Linked DNA regions of Homo sapiens: region 1 is linked to region 2. The links come from fine-mapping of genetic effects on gene expression. A gene starts in region 2. The other region holds a variant in brackets. All regions are shown on one strand. Distances are between the middles of the regions.

Region 1 (8,317 bases), 32 kb before region 2:
ACTCTCGGGCACATCACAGGGTGGCAGCTGGTGGGGGAACATCATCGCTGGGGTCTCCAGCCCCCCGAAGGGGAATTCTGGCCGGCCCCAGGGCTCAGGGGAGCGCCCTCCTGTAGGTGTCTGAGTCAAGGGCAGCGTGCTGTTGGATGCATTCTCTCCATTCTCCTCGGGGATGGTGGGGTGGCCAAAGGGCCCCTCGGTGGGCAGGGGCGGGGACGACATGACGGAGCTCAGGGGGCTGCCCACTTCTGGCACGTAGAACGGGGGCGGCTCCACCTCCCCAGGGCTGCTGCTGCTGAGGTACCCATAATACTGGCCATGGTGGAAGGGCCGGGGGGCAGGGGGCCGGGCCTGGCCTGTGGCCTGAAGCCGACCTTCCAGGCCACCGGGGCCCTCCAGCCCGCGGGGCTGGAACCGAGGGCTGTATGCTGGTGGTGGCAGGTAGGACTCCTGGCTGGATGACAGAGGGGTGAGCTGGGACTTCAGGGCGGCCACAGATGTGGGCACCAGTGGGTCCTCGTTCTCCTCGTCCGACTGGCGGAACTCGGGGTACATGTCCGTCTCCTCGGCGAAGGGGAAGCCCTCGATGCGCCTGCTCTTCAGCGAGGGCTCCATCTCGGCAGGGTCCATCACGAAGCGGCCGTCAGGGCCTCTGCTGATGAGCTCGATGGGCGTGGTGGCCTCTGCCTCGGCCTCTGCCTTGGCCACGCTGTACTTCTTGCTGCTGATGGCCCGCTTGGTCTTCTTGTACAGCGACAGCTCCTTCTCACGGGTGGGGCTCAGCATCCTCTTGGCCGCGGGCTGGCCCTGGTCGTCGGAGGATTCTGACGGCGCTCGGAGCGTGCGGATGCTCTCGGGGCTCACCTTGCCAGAGGACAAGCTGCAAGGAGGAGCAAGAGCCGGGAGGGGATGAGGTGGGGCAGTGTGCTGGCCAGGACTTCCTTTCCCTCTCTCGGCAACCACCCAGCACCCAGGATCCTCACGCTCAAGAAAACTGGCTGTGTATCGTGGTGTGAAATGCTTTGGCCAACTCTCCACCGTCTGGACGTGAATCCTCCTTTTTTTTTTAAAGACGGGGTCTTGCTATGTTGCCCAGACTGGTCTTGAACTCCTGGCCTCAAGCAATCCTCCTGCCTCAGCCTCCCAAAGTGCCAGGATTACAGGTGTGAGCCGCCGCGCCCGGCCCCCCCCATCATCCGTCTTTCCAGTGAACACCCGCCTCTTCACTTTTGTGCTGGCCTGCCCCCTCTCTGCTGTGCTCTAAGCACACCTCCAGCTTCATTCCCCTCTTTTCAAGACAAGCAAGCTCACTTTAATATCAACTTAAGCAACACATATTAAGGAGGCAAATCTGCTAGGGTGGGAAAACACTAAAGAAATACATTCCAAGGCTGAAGAGAAACTGATTACTGGCTAATTTGGATCATCTGCACTGCCACTCCCTCTACCAGCGTGGACAACTTACAATTAACACACAGGTCAATCAAGAAGAAATGGCTTAGAAACACTGAGATGGGGCTGGGCAAGTACAATTAACACACAGGTCAATCAAGAAGAAATGGCTTAGAAACACTAACATGGGGCTGGGTAAGGCGAGCGGTCTACCTATGCGCCCCCTGCCATGAACAGCACAATTCTCCCAGGATCTGAGACACTTACGGAGACTCCAGGCTCTTCCTGCAGTGGGTGATGGAGAGTGGAGGGTCTGGAAGGAAAGAGAAGGGGAGAGGCTGCTGAGGCCAAGCCAGCAACCACGCAGCACGCGCATCTGCAGAGGCTGACAGAGCCGGAGCACCACCGCACAGGGAAGGAGCTGCTCACAGTGGGCATCTTTGGCCCCTGCCTTCATGCTAGCTTGGGCCCCAGCAGCCTCTCCCCACCACCCCTGCTTCTTACCCCCACTTTCAAATCAAGTCTCACTGGCAGCTCTACCCACAAGATCTCAATGTCCCTATTTCCAAGGGGGGCCATGCTAAAAATGGTCCACCTCTCTTGATGGGGGGCATTTGAAACCGGGCCAGGGAGAGCAAGGGAAGGGGACAGACACCCACCTTTTTTGCGCTTGAGCTTACGCTTGCGCTGCTTGTTGACAAAGCAGGCAGCCAGGGTGCTGAACAGGATGGCAGCTGCCAAGAAGCAGATGGTAGCTACGATTCCCGCCAGCACAGGCCGCGCCAGCCCATCCTCGGTCAGGTCCGGCTGCGGGAAGATGTCTGCAGGGAGGGTGGGGAGCACTCATGAGCCCATCCTTCCCCGGGACCTCACCTGCTCCGACCTTCAGTCCCCAAGTGTTTCACCCTGCCTTTGTAGAACAGACAGTGTCAAGGCTCGGGCTCCAAGCTGAACTCTAGCACTGAAGAGGTTTGGATGGCGTCACGAAGAGGAAGAAGAGAGGAGAGTCTACAGAAGTCAATCTCTCCAAAGGGTGTAAAGAAGAAAACATCTATGCCTGTCCCCATGGGGATAATGACTTCAAGAGTAATCTATACTTATCTAGGGTTTTGCCTTCTGCAAAGCACCTTCATGCACGTTATCAGCTCTTCTCATGTTAACCCCATGAGCTACACAGAGCACACATACTGTTCTCATTCTCTAAATGAAAGAGCTCTGATCCACTGGGTTAGAGAGACCCGCTTACGTGGATATTGCCATCAGTGCCCAAACCAGAACGCAGCTGCCTGCTCCCAGTCTGGGATTTCCTGCCTCACACCAGTGTCTCTACAAAAGGAGAGCCCAGGTGTGAAGGCAACTTGAGGATAAAATACGACTGCAGGAAGAGGGATTATTACTACAAAATTCAGATCCTCTCCCCTTCTAGTACAGGCATGCAACGTCCTGAAGATTCGCATCCTGGTCATCTCAGGTACGGAAGTACCCTAGAGCTGGCAGGGACAGCAGAGATGGAGCCAAATCTCTCGTTTCACCATAAGGAGCTGAACGTCCTCCTTTCCTGCCCAAGTCTACAGAGCTCGTTATGACCGAGCCAAGACTAGACACCAGCCTACCATCTTATACTCATAGGAAAGTTGTGTCGGTAAGTGCCACTGCTTAGGTTCAGCAAAGGCAGAATCGATAGATTGTAACGTATTTGGCCAGAATTCATTGCTGCATCGATAATAATAATGGATAAAAATAATCCAGATGATGCTGATTGTCTGAGGGGAAAATGAAAGCTACAGCCTTTGGAAATGGGGGACCTAATACAGGGAATGCTGAGGCTGCTGCCTCCTCCTTCCCCTGTGTGGAAGTGTCTGACGAGGCACATTTCCTGCCAGGAGCTGGCATAGAGCTACTGAGCACAGAATGGTCAGGGGTGGGCCCACACAACACCCCTTCTTCAGCTCCAGCCTTGGATGCAAGCTCTCATCCCTGTTCCTCCAACTCTGAGTCTATTCCCCACAGAGAAGTCAAGAAAGACTGTGGGTTCTGCTACCTGTAGGACACAACCTTTTTTTTTTAAAGCCCATTGATGCCTAATGTATAAAGCAGAAATTGCACTCCACACCTGCCCCTGCTCTCGTGCTCCCTGCAGTGTGCCCACACCAGCACTTCCCCAACTCTACAAGTCCTGCTGCATGAGCTCCTCAGACGAGGTCACTGTCACCTGGTCCCAGGGGACTCTGGGTGAGCGGTGCCCAAGGAAATGATGCCATCACTTGCTTATAAGCAAGAGCCTTTTCCCATACCAAGGACACCCCTTCACTGGCGGAGGAACCTGCTATGTCTCAGGAACTATAGCTGGAGAGAAGATGTGTAGAAATGGGACCAGGGCCAAGAGAAAGAAAGATAAATGGAGAAAATGCTAGGGAATTGGCTTTATTTAGCCTTAAAAATCTAGAGAGAGGAAGGAAGGGAGGAAAACACCAAACAACAATTTTCCAAATAAAACCCACATAATTATAAAGAAGTCTATCACAAGCATTTGATAAACATGGTTGACCTGTTGTTTCCTCCGATTCACAGCCCCTCCCCGACAAGAGGAAACTGAAAATGTACAGCAAATAGCACTTCAATCAAGTCCTTTTTGACTACTATAATGAGAAGATTAGTTGAATTTCTTTCTGTGGCTGTCTTATACAAGTGTCAGAAACTCAGCTTCTGAGCTTCACGAAATAGCATGCATCATGGAAATATGGGTCTGGTGGGCTTAAGAAAGGCTATGACTCACGCAGCTGCAACCAGGCACTGCCTTAGTTTCCAATCCAGCTTCTCCTCGTGGAGTAGCCATTTCACAAAATGACCCCCATGCAGCTCTGGGGCTTATGTCCCTATAGTTGCAAGAGCACCCTCAACCCAAAATACCTGTGCTGGAGACGCCGGCGATGTTGCTGGGCTCGCTGATCAGATCCTGCATGACGGCCAGAACCCGGAACTCATACCACGTGTCCTGCAGCCCCAGGGACAATACCCAGTCAGCCGAGGGACCTGAGATGACCACTGTCCCCTCACACACTCATCCTGCACACAGCCTTGCAAAGGGCAGGGCACCCAAAGCACAGGAGGACTGCTAAGTGTCTAATGCTAAGCGATGGTAGCACTGGCCAATTGCTGTGGTGTAAACACTCTTACAATGGCTGACTTCAAGCTACGAACGTGAGGTCACC[G/A]AAAGCGTTGGGAAGAGATATGTACAACAGGCTCTCCAGGGCCACTGGGAGCCGACTCCAGCAACCACTATTGATAAATAAGTGTCCAGGAAGGAAGACAGAAAGATAGATGAGACTGTATCTTAGGAAACCAGCTGCTTCCTCTCCCCAGCTAGATATCCAAGTTTAACGGAGCTACTGGAAAAAGAGATAATGCACTTTCTTCCAGGAGCTCTAAATTACTGGAGAAGGGGTTCTTCCCTGGACACACCTAGAAGAGAATTCTTCTTGGAACTTCTCTGCCCACCCCAGGTTAGGCTCAGCAAGGGCTGGGGTCAGTGCTCTGATTACGCCTGCTGGCCTCTCAGCCTGCCCTGCCCAGCTTGTAGCGGTGCCGGGACCCTCAGTAGAACACAGGTCCCCGCTGCCCCAGAGCTGGCCCCGAGCCTGTGGGCCATGATCTGAGGAGTCCAGGCCTTGGTAGCGAGTCTGGGAGAATCCAGGACCAGTGGTGAGGAGGTACAGGATGTGGCTGGCCTCACACACCCAAAGTTGGTCACTCAAAGCTTCCAGTGCCTCTAGAGTCTTGTCGCTTCCCGGATTTGGGAAGCAGCAGCAAGGAAGAGCAAAGCCCTCACCTGTGACAGATCCTTGGCAAAGAACTCTCCTTCGGTGCCGGGGATGCCATCGTCGAGCAACTCCCAGCGCTCTGCGACACGGAACTCCATGATGTAGCGGTCGATGGGAAAGCTGTGGTTGGCAGGCGGAAGCCAGGACAGGAGCACACCCTGCTGAGTCCGATTGGCTATGAGGCACCTCGGTGGGGTGACCAGCACCAGGGGTTCTGGAGTTGTAATAGGGAATGCTGCGGCGGGGGAAGGAGAAGAACCACAGCGCATCAGCGAGGCCCAGGGCAGCCACCGCACCCCCCACACTCCTGTGCACATGTCAGGGCCCAGAGGGAAGCAGAGTCAGGGCCCGGGGCCCAGGGCTTCAGGGTTCTGCCTTCAGAGTACGTCTAAACATACATGAGGGAATCGTGTACTGCAAAAGGGAAGAGAAATGGGAACTATGGGGAAGGAGGAATAATTAAATGTCATCAAAGTATCTCCTGTGCTCTTCCAGGGAGCTAGGGATATCTTCTTTCTCACAGCACAGCAGTCACTCTTTCCATTCCCTTCTTGGCCGGGGTTTGGGGGTCAACACAAGGCCCCACAGAGGTGCCAAGGACTGGGGGTGAGCATCCCAGACTGCTGTCCACCTTGGCGGCCGCTCAGGAGCGGATTCTGGGAAAGGGGCTGGAGTCGCGCCACCTACACCACCTAGGAAAAGCCTGTTCACAGTGGCCCTTTCTCTGGCTCCAGAGCAGAGCAAACACAACTGTGGCCAGGCAGGGAGGAGTATGAGGCTGCCTCCAGGAAGGTGGCCTGGAAGACTCTGCAGCGGGAGGCAGCCACATGCCTACCGCCCAGTGACGCTGGGGCCAGAGGCCAGAACCGGCAGGCGCTGCCAAGGAGGGAGGATGCCCAATCTCCCCTGAAAGCAAACATGTGGCCTGACAAGGAAAGAGAAAATTCTAAGTGTCTTTCTTCCACCTGAAAAAGCAACAGGAATTCGGCCAATGGCACTCTGATGCAGGACCAGCAAACCCCACAGAGACCACAACAAATCCTCACGGGGAGATCAGATGGCACGGCTCTGTGGAGCACTCAGCAAGGTACCGGCACACAGGAGGCCGACTGCTATAGCTGCCTGGGCCACCGCCCCCACCACCTCTACAACCCCCGCTCCCAACATCCCACCCCGGGCCCTCACCTAAAGTGTTCACAGTGACCACCTCACTGAAGGCGCTGGTTCCCAGCTTGTTCTGGGCCAGGACGCTGAACTGGTACGCTGTCTCAGGCTCCAGGGTGTCCACCAGCAGCCAGCTGGGTCCTGGCGGCACTGGCAAGGACAGCCAGTCATGGGGCCCAAACTGTGCCCGCTTCATCCTGGCCAAAAGAGAGAGACAGGATAGGGGACGAGGGGCGGGGTGGGTCACACTGGAGAGAAGAGGGTGCATGCAGGGTGCTCAGGGAGAAGGCACTGGTGGGCCTGGCGTTCCTAGGTTCAAGGGCAAGAAGAGGGCATGGCCCAGAGTGGATGCCCTGCCCAGCTTTGGCTGTGCCAATCCTCCTGATGCTGGGTCACCAACCACAGCTGGCATCTTTTCTACCAAAGGGGCCTTTAGGTGCAAGTCGTGCTCAGGACACTGGTCAGATGGATTACCAGCTGCATTGTGGGAGAATCCCACCCTGGTCACAACCCTAAGAACAAGCTCTGCCTTGGGAGAGTAAGGCTCTGGGGTATGGGGATAAGCGGCTCAACAGTGGCAGGATGAGGGAAGGAGCCCAGGACCTGGCTGCACACACCCCCAGGGACAGCTGAAGTAGGGCCTCGGGTAACCCACAGGGCTCATTCATCCAATCAGACTGGAGTCACCTGAGATGTCCAGGGTATAAGACCATAATGACCAGGGGTTTCCCCACAGTGGGGCCAGGATCCCTAAGGCCGTAAGGGTTGGAAGAAGGTCACGCTATGCATGGAGAGTAGGAAGACGGGCCGAGGGTGTTCCCTTGTTCCACAGGCTCCCAACTCCCAGCAAAGCCGGAGGGCTATGGGTGCAGTGCTGCCACGTCACCACAGGGAGGAGACATGGTCCTGTGGGACTGGCCCTCTCCTTGCAGCCCTGAGCTGTAACCTGGTGGGTGCCCTCCAGGATCCACTCCCGGGTCCCGGCTCACTACCGTGCACGCCCAGGAGGGTGAGATGAGGCAGCGGAAAGCAGTACAAAAAGAAGCCGGCGCCAAACGTCGGAGTCAGTGCACAGAGTTAGAGGCAGGCAGAAAGAAAGGAGACCTCCCCAACCTCGGCCCCGCCCTTCCCTGGCCCAGGCAACAAAGCAGCGAGGAGCCACGTGTGGAAAAGCAGTGCAGATGAGCAGCAGCGTGGAGCAGCAGCGTGAAGCAGCACCGCAAGCAGCAGGGGAGCCCCAATCTACACCTGAGCCCCCCATCGTATGCCCAGACCTCCCACCCAGGCATCTCCAAAGACAGCTTGACCACACCAAATGTCCCACCCTGGACACCTAGGCGCTGAGCAGCACCGGTCTCCCAGCAGCCACCGGGCAGGCTGGTTAGGGCCCCCACGCTGCTGCGGGAGGAACAGAGTAAGGGGACGGGAGGTGAGCTGCGGCAACTCCCATCATCCAGGTGCAGTTCTCCAATCAGAATCAAGACACCCAGGACACTCCGCCCGGGAAGCAGCCACCGAACCACCATGATGGGAGACAGAGCGGGTGCCCCTCTCAACTTCCCTCGCTGCTGAGAAGTGGATAAAGGGGTCTCCCTGAACCCCCTGAGCTGCCCCAGGTGCCTGCCTTTTCCCCCTCCCCTCGAGCTCCCCCTCCTCGAGTTGAGCCTGGCTAGAGAGACACCTGCAGGTGAGACAGGTCTAAAAGAAGGCACTGAGGGGCTCGCCCTCCCAGCTCAAGGTTGTCACCCCCGGGGCAGGGCAGGTGGCTGCCACTCTTACTCAAACAGGAGTGTAGGGAGGGGCAGCCCTTGGGGGTGGGAGGAGTCAGCTAGGCTTCCTTCTCCTCCCTTCCTGTGCCTCCTGCCCTCACCCCGCTTGGCACATTTTTGAGATCTGTATCTACCCTAAGGTTTGCGCAAAGACCTCATATGACTGCATCT
Region 2 (8,317 bases):
GTGCACATGTATGCATGTGCACACACACACACTTCTGGACAGCTGGAAGCTCTCAGCAGTTGCAGCTCTTTGACCATTCAGATCCACTCTTCACACAAGCTGCTTCACCTCTTCTAGGAAGCAGGTGGAAGGGGACCGCTCCCTAAGTACTCTGCACCCCAACCTGAGAAGGCCACAGGATGTGGAGAAGAGAGCTACCTTAAATCTCAGGCCCAGCCCTCTTTGGAGCTTATCTCCCACCCCCACATCTTGAAGCACCCAGCAGGGCTGAGGAAGAGAGGGCCAAGGAAGAAGACACAGCCAGCACCCTGGCTGGGGAGAAGGCAAAGGTACAGGAGGTTGGAGTGAGGGCCAGAGTGATGCTGGGGCTCAGAATCTTCCAGCGAGGCAGCCTCTGCTCCTCTGTAACCAGATTCCAGCCTTCTGTCTCAGAGCCATAAACACGAAACCACTCAAGGTCTATCTAGGACCCTGCAACTCCAGGACCAGCACATGCAGGGCCACAGGCCCGCGGCTGAAAGCTGATTGCCCTCTGCCCCTCAGCCAAGCCCTTCTCACATCCCCGTCTCCCCAGCTTCCCACAGGGCACAGGCTGCCAGACACACTCCTGTCCCCAGCATGTGTGTGCTGAGGATACACACACACATCCATCCAGCCACTGACCACTTCCTGAGTGAAGTCCTTCTCAGCCGATAGGCTCACCACGGGGTCTTGATAGCAACCTCTGAGTCCAAACCTCCACCCTCCCATCTTCATTACCAAAAGGAAGCATAGGTCAAGGCCAGGTAGAAAGTAGAGGGCAATGGCCCAACTACCAGCAGGATCTGAGTCAGAACCTCACTGTATTTGGGGACACTGTAGTCAGGGATAATGTAACGACAGAATCTGTGGCAGACAGAGGAGGCAGCCGTGGGAGTAAAGTCTGGGACTTTCCTCCCCTATCCAAGGTCCACAATCAGCTAAGCACGGCCCAGGGTCCTCCCACAGAGTAGGAACTCCCCCGGGCTGGCTCAGCAGCCGTCTGAGATACTGAGTGCACACCAATCACTGTCTTCCAGGTTCTGGGTACCACTCCAGCCCCTCTCTTCTCCACACTTCCCCAACCTGTCCACTGACCTTAATCACCTCCCAGGCACACACACTCAAAGTCAAAAGGAGGAGCCCATTCCAACCTCTGTCCCGCACCCGAGGGCTGATGGAGTCGGGTCCCAACACAACATCATCCCTTTCCCCCTCTGCCAGAGCAGCCCCTGCTATGGCCAAATCCTAAGGGTGGCATCTCAAAGTCCCTCCTGCTGAGGGACTGCCCCAGAAGTCACCTCTGCCAGTCAGGGAACAGCTGAGCTCTCACAGGGAGACTCAGCAGCATGTGGACACTGGCTGGTGCTGCTCACACGAGCGGGCGCCCACCCGCTCTCTCCAGAGGCTGTGTGTTGCAAGCCCTCACTTCCCGGGCTGTGTCCTTCCATAAACCTCTGGCCACCAACAACACTCCAGCTTTGGAGACCTTGCAAAGGACTTCCGAGCAGCTTTGAGGCCCGCACATCCTGCACACGTGTCCCTGGGATGCCAGGGACAAGAGGTTCTGCCCAGACAAGGTCAGCCCAGAAAGGGGTCTTACTTCCTGACACAGGCAGCCTTCTGAACTTCCCCGCAACACATTCTCAGCTCCTAGTGCCCTGAATGGCCCAAGGGAAAGAAATTGAGGAGGATCTTGGAATCCCAGGGACACTGAGAAAATAATGTTAATGTTTACTGAGCACGTACTATATAACAGGTAGTTGTTTTGTTTCCTTATAACACTCATGTCCACCTAAAAACCCTAAAAGTACATGCTATTGGCACATTTTCTATTGAAGCAAGTGACATTTAGAGAGGTTGAGAATTTGTCCAAGGTCACAGGGTCGGCAGGTGACACAGCCAGAATCTGAATCCCAGTCATATGGCTCTAGACCTAGGTCCTTAACTACCACACACAGAGCAATTGAGGCTAAGAAAGACCCCAAGACCAGCAAGGTCACCCTCTGCTTCCAGACAGGGGTACATGTCCAGCCATTCCAGACAGAAGGACCCCTCTGCACCCTGAAAGAGGGCATAACCTTCATGCCAGGCAGCCTTCAATTTTGGGAAGCCCTTCCTTCTATCTTGCGATTCTGCGTGTTGCTGCAGTATAAACTCACATTCCTTTATTCTGGGCTGAAACTTGCAAAGAAGTCCATTGCCCACCCTGACTTAGGTTCGGAGGCTATTTCAGAGCCTTCCTTCAGCGTCTCTTTTCTATTCAAAGATCCCAGCTCATCCTTTTGTGCTTTCAGGGACAGTCCCATAGCAGGAACATACCAAAAACGGGAGGGGAGGAGGATGCGGGCATTGGAAGACGGCAAGGAAATGGGGGAGAGGATGAGGCTACAGGCAGACTGTCAAGCGCAGCCCGATGCACCTCACATCCACCCCCCGTTCCGTAAGCTTCCGCCATCACCCTTGCCTCAGTGTTCCCACCTGACAAATGAAGAGTTTTAAAACCGTCCGGACCAACATGTCAGTTAACAAAATCACCCTTCGCTTCGCCCTCTGCTCGTTCTGTTTTCAGACACCACCACCCCCCTCAGAAGCAGAGGCGACATATTCATTCCATTCCGGAAAGTTTCCTGAAGCACGCCCCCCTGCACAGACGAGTGACGAGGGGACCCCGTGAGAGGCGCCTCCAGCCCACCCGGCGCCCCATGCCGCTGGGAGAGGGTTCTCTGTCGGCGAGTCCTGCCTGCTGACTCCCACCCACAGCGGGTTCTCTCCCGCCGCCATCTCCTCCGGCTTGGTGAACTTGCCCGCAGCCGGGTCGTGTCTGCGCGCTGACAGCCCTGAGCTCACAGTCCTGGCACCCTCCAGGCTCCGCTCCCACTTCCATACAAGGGCCGAGAGCCGGGGGTGCCACCCAGAGGCTTGTAGGTCGCTCTGCCCATCTCCAAAGCAAAAGCCCGCGCGCTCACGCACGCATCACCCAACTCGGTGGCTCCCCCCTTGCGTCTCCCCCAGCTCAGACCCAGGAAAGCGGAAAGAGAAAATCCCCCCTCCGCTCGGATTCACAGCGTGGGGACCCCCCCTTCCCCGCCCCTCCCCTCCCCCGCCGCCGCCCCCAGCCAGCTCTGCCTCGCAGCCTGGGGAGGGCGGCGTGGGGCCCGCGCGGCTGCGGCGCGCTCCCGGGGAACTTTTGCCTGGCCGGGGCCCAGGTGCGGCTGAGAGGCGCGGGGGCCGGCGGGGTCCAGCCAAAAGCGGACACACCTCGAAGCTGGCCTCATCAATCCTCCTCTCACCGGGCGCCCCTGCTAGGGGGATCCGACCTCCAGCTGCCAAGATGTGTGGGCAGGAGGGGCGCGAGCGGAGCGATGGACGCCCGCAGGGCCGCGCGAACCCGGGGCCTTAGACGCGGGTGCCGCCAGTCCCAGGGATCCTCCGGGTCGCGCCTCCCTGCAGGCGCTCCTCGCGGCGCGGGGCTCTAGCGTGCTGCAGCCTGCCCGGAGACCGCAAACTCCCGCAGCCAGAGTTTCCCGCAGCTCTGGGAGGCGGCCGCCGGGCAGGAGGCGACGGGCTAGGCGCGCCGGTGTGCACCGTGGGGCCCGTGGTGGGCGAAGTCGACCCAGGTTCCACTGCGTCCTTTCCCCGAGTGCCCGGCAGCCCGTGGGCTCTGGCCCCTTCCCGCCCGCCCCTCCAGCCCACGGCCCCCAGGCCCTCCCCGGCAATGCTCCCGGGCCGCCTGGCCCGCGTCGGAGCCCAAGCCTCACCCGCGGGAAGGCGCGCCGGGGAGCTGGGGAACCGGGGGGCCAAGGAGCCGGGAAACCGAGGGGCCGGGCGCGAGGGGCCGAGGGCGCCGGGAGGGGCAGGGGAGGGACGCCGCACTTCAACTCACCTTCAGCCGCAAGCCCTCGGGTGCCGATCACACTTGCTATGAAAGTGGCCACATACCAAATCATAGTACTACCGCGCCAGCCCGGAGCCTCATCCTATCGCAAAGTGCTCCCGCGCCCGCACGCGCCTCGCGCCCGAGCGCCCGCCTCGCGCCCGCCTCGCGCCGCCTACGCCCCGCGCCGGTGCTCCTGCAGCCCGGGTGGCCAGCTCTCCATCCCTCCTAGGCTCCGCTCGGCTCGGCGCGCGCCTCCCCGGCCCCGGCGCAGCGGCACCTGCACTACTCGCCCGGGCGGAGCGCAGCCAGGTCCACGGTGAAGCCTAGCCGGGCCGGGCCTCCGGAACCGCCCCCGCCGCCCGCCTATTGGGCGCCGCCCGCAAGCCGGGGGTCCGATTGGCTCAGCCTTCCGCCCGTCGCGGCGCGAAGGAGGCGAGCCCATTTCAAGGTGCGTTGAAGTGTGGCGAGCACAGAGCCGCAGAATCATGCGCATTGCCGGGGAGAAGGTGGTATAGCGTCTCTGCCCGCTTCTCTCTCGGCTCACACTGCGTGGCAAGTTTCTGGTGAGGGAAATGGTAGCTTCTAACGGGACCCTGGCGGGTCTCAATTACCCCGGACAGGTCTGAGGGAAGTGGAGCCCCCGCCCACTCATGGAACCCAACATCCGGTTTCCATCCGGCAAAAAGCAGTTCCCGAGAGGACCATGCTGATTCTATGATGGGGAAACCCAGGAGCCGGCGGCCCGGGAGAGCCGGGGAACGTCCTTCGCCGGAGATCTTTTCAAAGAGGTCACGCGCCGCCTCCCCACCCCGTCTCCCTCCGCACCCAGACACGTCCCCAGAGCAGCGCACCACCCCCTCCAAACGTGATGCAGACCGGGGGATGACTAAAATGACCTCTCAAAGTCGCTAAGATTTAGAGTGAGTCATTGGCTCAGCTGCGAAGTGCCACAGACCCCTCAGGAACACTCGTGCACACACACTCCACCCCCAGTGCTGGTCACTGCTGCTCATCATTACTGAATCCCGACTCCAAGCAGTCAAAGTTGGGTCTTTTTCCCACTTCTCCTGATAAAGGCTGCTTCCTCACGCACATGGTTCCTCCCCTCTCCACCTTACTCGGAGCCCAGCCCCGACTCGGCCGCATGAAACCAAGATGGGTTTGGGGGAAGCTTTAGGAGTCTGGGATGGAGGAGACCCAGGGAAAGGGAAGGAGCTTCTCATCCTACAGAGGAATGTAAATAGGAAACTGGAAGGTCTTCGTATGTTCCAGTCTCCCTACCCTAGCCTGTCTGCTTCCCCTCCCCCAATACAGTTGTATTTGCAGAAGAAATAAATGAGTGTCATGGAAACATCTACTACAAACAATCACCTCACACCAGCGCTCAGAGGCTGCAGTGAAGATGTTTGTTCTTTCAAGGAGTGAAGGCAGTGGTAAGAATCACACCGCTCCCTGGGATGGGCTGTTGGCCAAGGAAGGAAGGCAGAGGGTCAGCGAGCGAGAGCTCAGGAATTTCATCCTCTCAAAGCACTCGTTAGCCACAAAGCCCTGGCTCCAGGACATGAAGCTCCCAAAACAACAAGAAGGAGACTTGCTTCTGGGAAAGCGTGCACACAGGTACACACACATGCACAAAAAGTGGCCTTGAACACCGGAGGTGGAGCATTCCCTGACACCGGAAGCCTCTTAGCTCACCGCCAGCTGGGAGGCAGAAAGAGGCCCCCAACAGAGCAGTCAGTGAGCACATGGATAAAGGTCGAGGGCCTGGATAGATCCAGAGAACCAGGACTGTTGAATAACCTTCTACCCTACCCACCCCTCCACCTGTGCAAACACACTCAAGATGCATAACTTGGGGCCATCTCTCCCTGAGCCATGATTTTGGTTCTCTTCTTGGGCAAAGATGCCTTTCTGGGGACAATGAAGTGAGCTGCTCCAGGTCTCATTGATGCAGTGATCTCCAGGTCTCATTGATGCAGTGATTTCCAGGTGGCATGACCCAGAATAACTCCACCCCCAACACACACACACACATATACATACACACACACTTACACACTTTCCCAGGGCCCCGGGACTGTAAAGACATATTGGAATCCATTTGCAGAATTGGTCATAACAGGATCCTTCTCCTCCCACAACCTCTAAGCAGCTAACTGTGGCCTAGAGAAAAGTGCCGGATCCACAAAGCCTGGCCCTAGTTCCTCACCATTGTTAGGTATGGAGTGGGAAACATCAGGTCTCAGAGAAACCCTCTCCTAGGGGCCTGCAGGGCAAGGAAAAAGATGGAGCCACTCTCACCACCCATCTTGATTGCTTTGTCTGGCCATCCATTTGTCCTACTCAGGGTTCTGCCTCCTGCTAGGAAAGTAGAACTGTCTGTCAGAATGGATGGCGGGCATGGAGGCTCATGCCAGTAGTCTCAGCTCCTCAGGAGGCTGAAGCAGGAGTATTGCCTGAGCACAGGAGTTCTAGGCTCAGTGATCATGCCACTGCACTCCAGCCTGGGTGACAGAATGAGACCCTGTTAAAAAACAAACAAAAACAACAACAAAAGTGTCTGTCAAATTGGAAAGAAAAAAACACGTAACAAGCTTTAGAACATGAGTTGGGTTGGGAAGGGGTTCGAAGGATCTATCTAAAGAGGAGAACAAATTTCTTCTGGATAATTCTACTGGAAACAGAGTGGAACAAGGGATGAAGGCAGAGAGGAAGGGGAAGAAAATTAAGATACAAAGGGAAAAGTTCGTCATCATCATCATCATTAGACATGTCTCAACTGGGTTTCAGATCAGCTAAAGAGAGATATACTGTATCAGCTTACAGTGAGGAGTGAGTCTGATCAAATCTTTTCCTCTTGGCGTATGGCTGAGCTTTGGACCCAGAAAGGATGGTTGCCCCTTCCTAGAATAGACACATCCAGTTGAGTGTTCAAGGGGAGCATGGACCCCAGATGTCCAAAAGGGACATGAGGGAGGAACATGAGCCACTTCCCTGCGCAGCTCCTAGGTGTACCTGAATGTCATCGATGTCACTAATAAATGCAGTAATATATCCAGGAATGCTATGTATATCAGATACGGGAGTGTCTGTCATCTTCTTTTAAGAGGTACTGACTTTTTGGAAATACAAAACAATAGTCTTATCAGTGTGTCTATGAAAAAAAACCAAATGTAGCCACCTACCTGCACATCCCAGAGGCCTTTGGAGGACATGTGAGAAAGGGGGCTGACAGGAGCTTCAAGTGTAGGAGAAGAGGAAACTATCCTCCTTCCCTCCTCATAGTCATCGAACAAGGAGGACTCAAAAACAATAGTTCACTTGTCTGTCACTTCTCACCTTCCTCAGTGGTTCCAGCCCTCATTGCAGAATCTAGGGTAGAACAATTGTTGGGACAGCTGCTTGTGAAAAGGAGAGGCAGTTCTAAATAAAAGCAGTTTACTCAACACAAACACCAAAGAGCGTGTTTAGTGTTTACATAAATAGGGAACTGTATCAGTTGTCTTACCGTGTAAAAACCCAGCCCAAAATATCATGGCTTAAAGCAAGAAGGCTCATTCATTTGCTCTTGAATCCGCAATTTGGACACTGGCTGGTGAGGACAGCTCTTCTCTACTTCATGTGGCATCAGCTCCACTGGGGTGTGGACCTTTCTCCTTTCAGGATGGCTTACTCACGTGGCTAGCAGGTTGACGCTGGCTGTTAGCCTGGGCTGCCAGCAAAGGGCTGTGATTCTTCCTCAAGTGGGCCTCTCTGCAGGCTGCCTGGGCTTCCTCAAAGCATGGTGGTTCCAAAAGCTGGCATCCCAGTAGAACCAGGTGAAAGGCATATGACCCTTCATATCCCAGCCTTGGAAGACACCTAGCATCACTTCCATCAGGGTCAAAAACCTGCCCCAATTCAAAGGGAGAGGACACAGTTCCCCACCTCTCAATAGAACAGTGGCCCTGTCACTTTTTTTTTTTTTTAGACGGAATCTTACTCTGTCACCCAGGCTGGAGTGCAGTAGCGCAATCTCAGCTCACTGCAACCTCCGCCTCCCAGGTTCAAGTGATTCTTCTGCCTCAGCCTCCCAAGTAGCTGGGCCTACAGGCACATGCCACCACATCCGGCTAATTTTTGTATTTTTAGTAGAGACAGGGTTTCACCATATTGGCTAGGCTGGTCTCGAACTCCTGACCTGGTGATCCACCCACCTTGGCCTCCCAAAGTGCTAGGATTACAGGCGTGAGCCACCGCACCCGGCCCCTGTCACATTTTAAGAAGAACTTACGGGATGGGAGAGAGTGTTGCAGCCATTTCTGGATGATACAATTTGCAATGAAAACAGTCTTCAAAATTGAAGGAAAAAAATGACTGCTAGAAGAAATATCTAGAAAGAAAGGTATATATTAGAGTTCTCCAGAAAAAATAGAACTA

Alleles and levels. Alleles are on the strand shown, and positions count from the first base shown. SD is a standard deviation of normalised expression in the study named.
As copies of A replace G in region 1, the expression in transverse colon of the gene that starts at base 4,182 in region 2 goes up (small effect, 0.11 SD a copy in GTEx).

What was found.
Region 1: its variant is fine-mapped to the expression of IGSF9B in transverse colon (GTEx, PIP 0.93).

The regions. Positions count from the first base shown.
Region 1 is chr11:133,920,518-133,928,834 of GRCh38, forward strand. IGSF9B (immunoglobulin superfamily member 9B) reads right to left here. Exons shown (of 20, transcript NM_001277285.4): 13 at 6,399-6,574; 14 at 5,222-5,448; 15 at 4,303-4,387; 16 at 2,052-2,213; 17 at 1,660-1,705; 18 at 1-880. Among named protein-coding and RNA genes, the nearest start is that of MIR4697, 26 kb to the left of the region's middle. RefSeq lists a silencer at 7,087-7,176. The variant G/A (reference allele first, on the strand shown) is at 4,605.
Region 2 is chr11:133,952,787-133,961,103 of GRCh38, forward strand. IGSF9B (immunoglobulin superfamily member 9B) reads right to left here and starts at 4,182. Exons shown (of 20, transcript NM_001277285.4): 1 at 3,905-4,182. The coding sequence starts at 3,968. RefSeq lists a silencer at 4,011-4,360.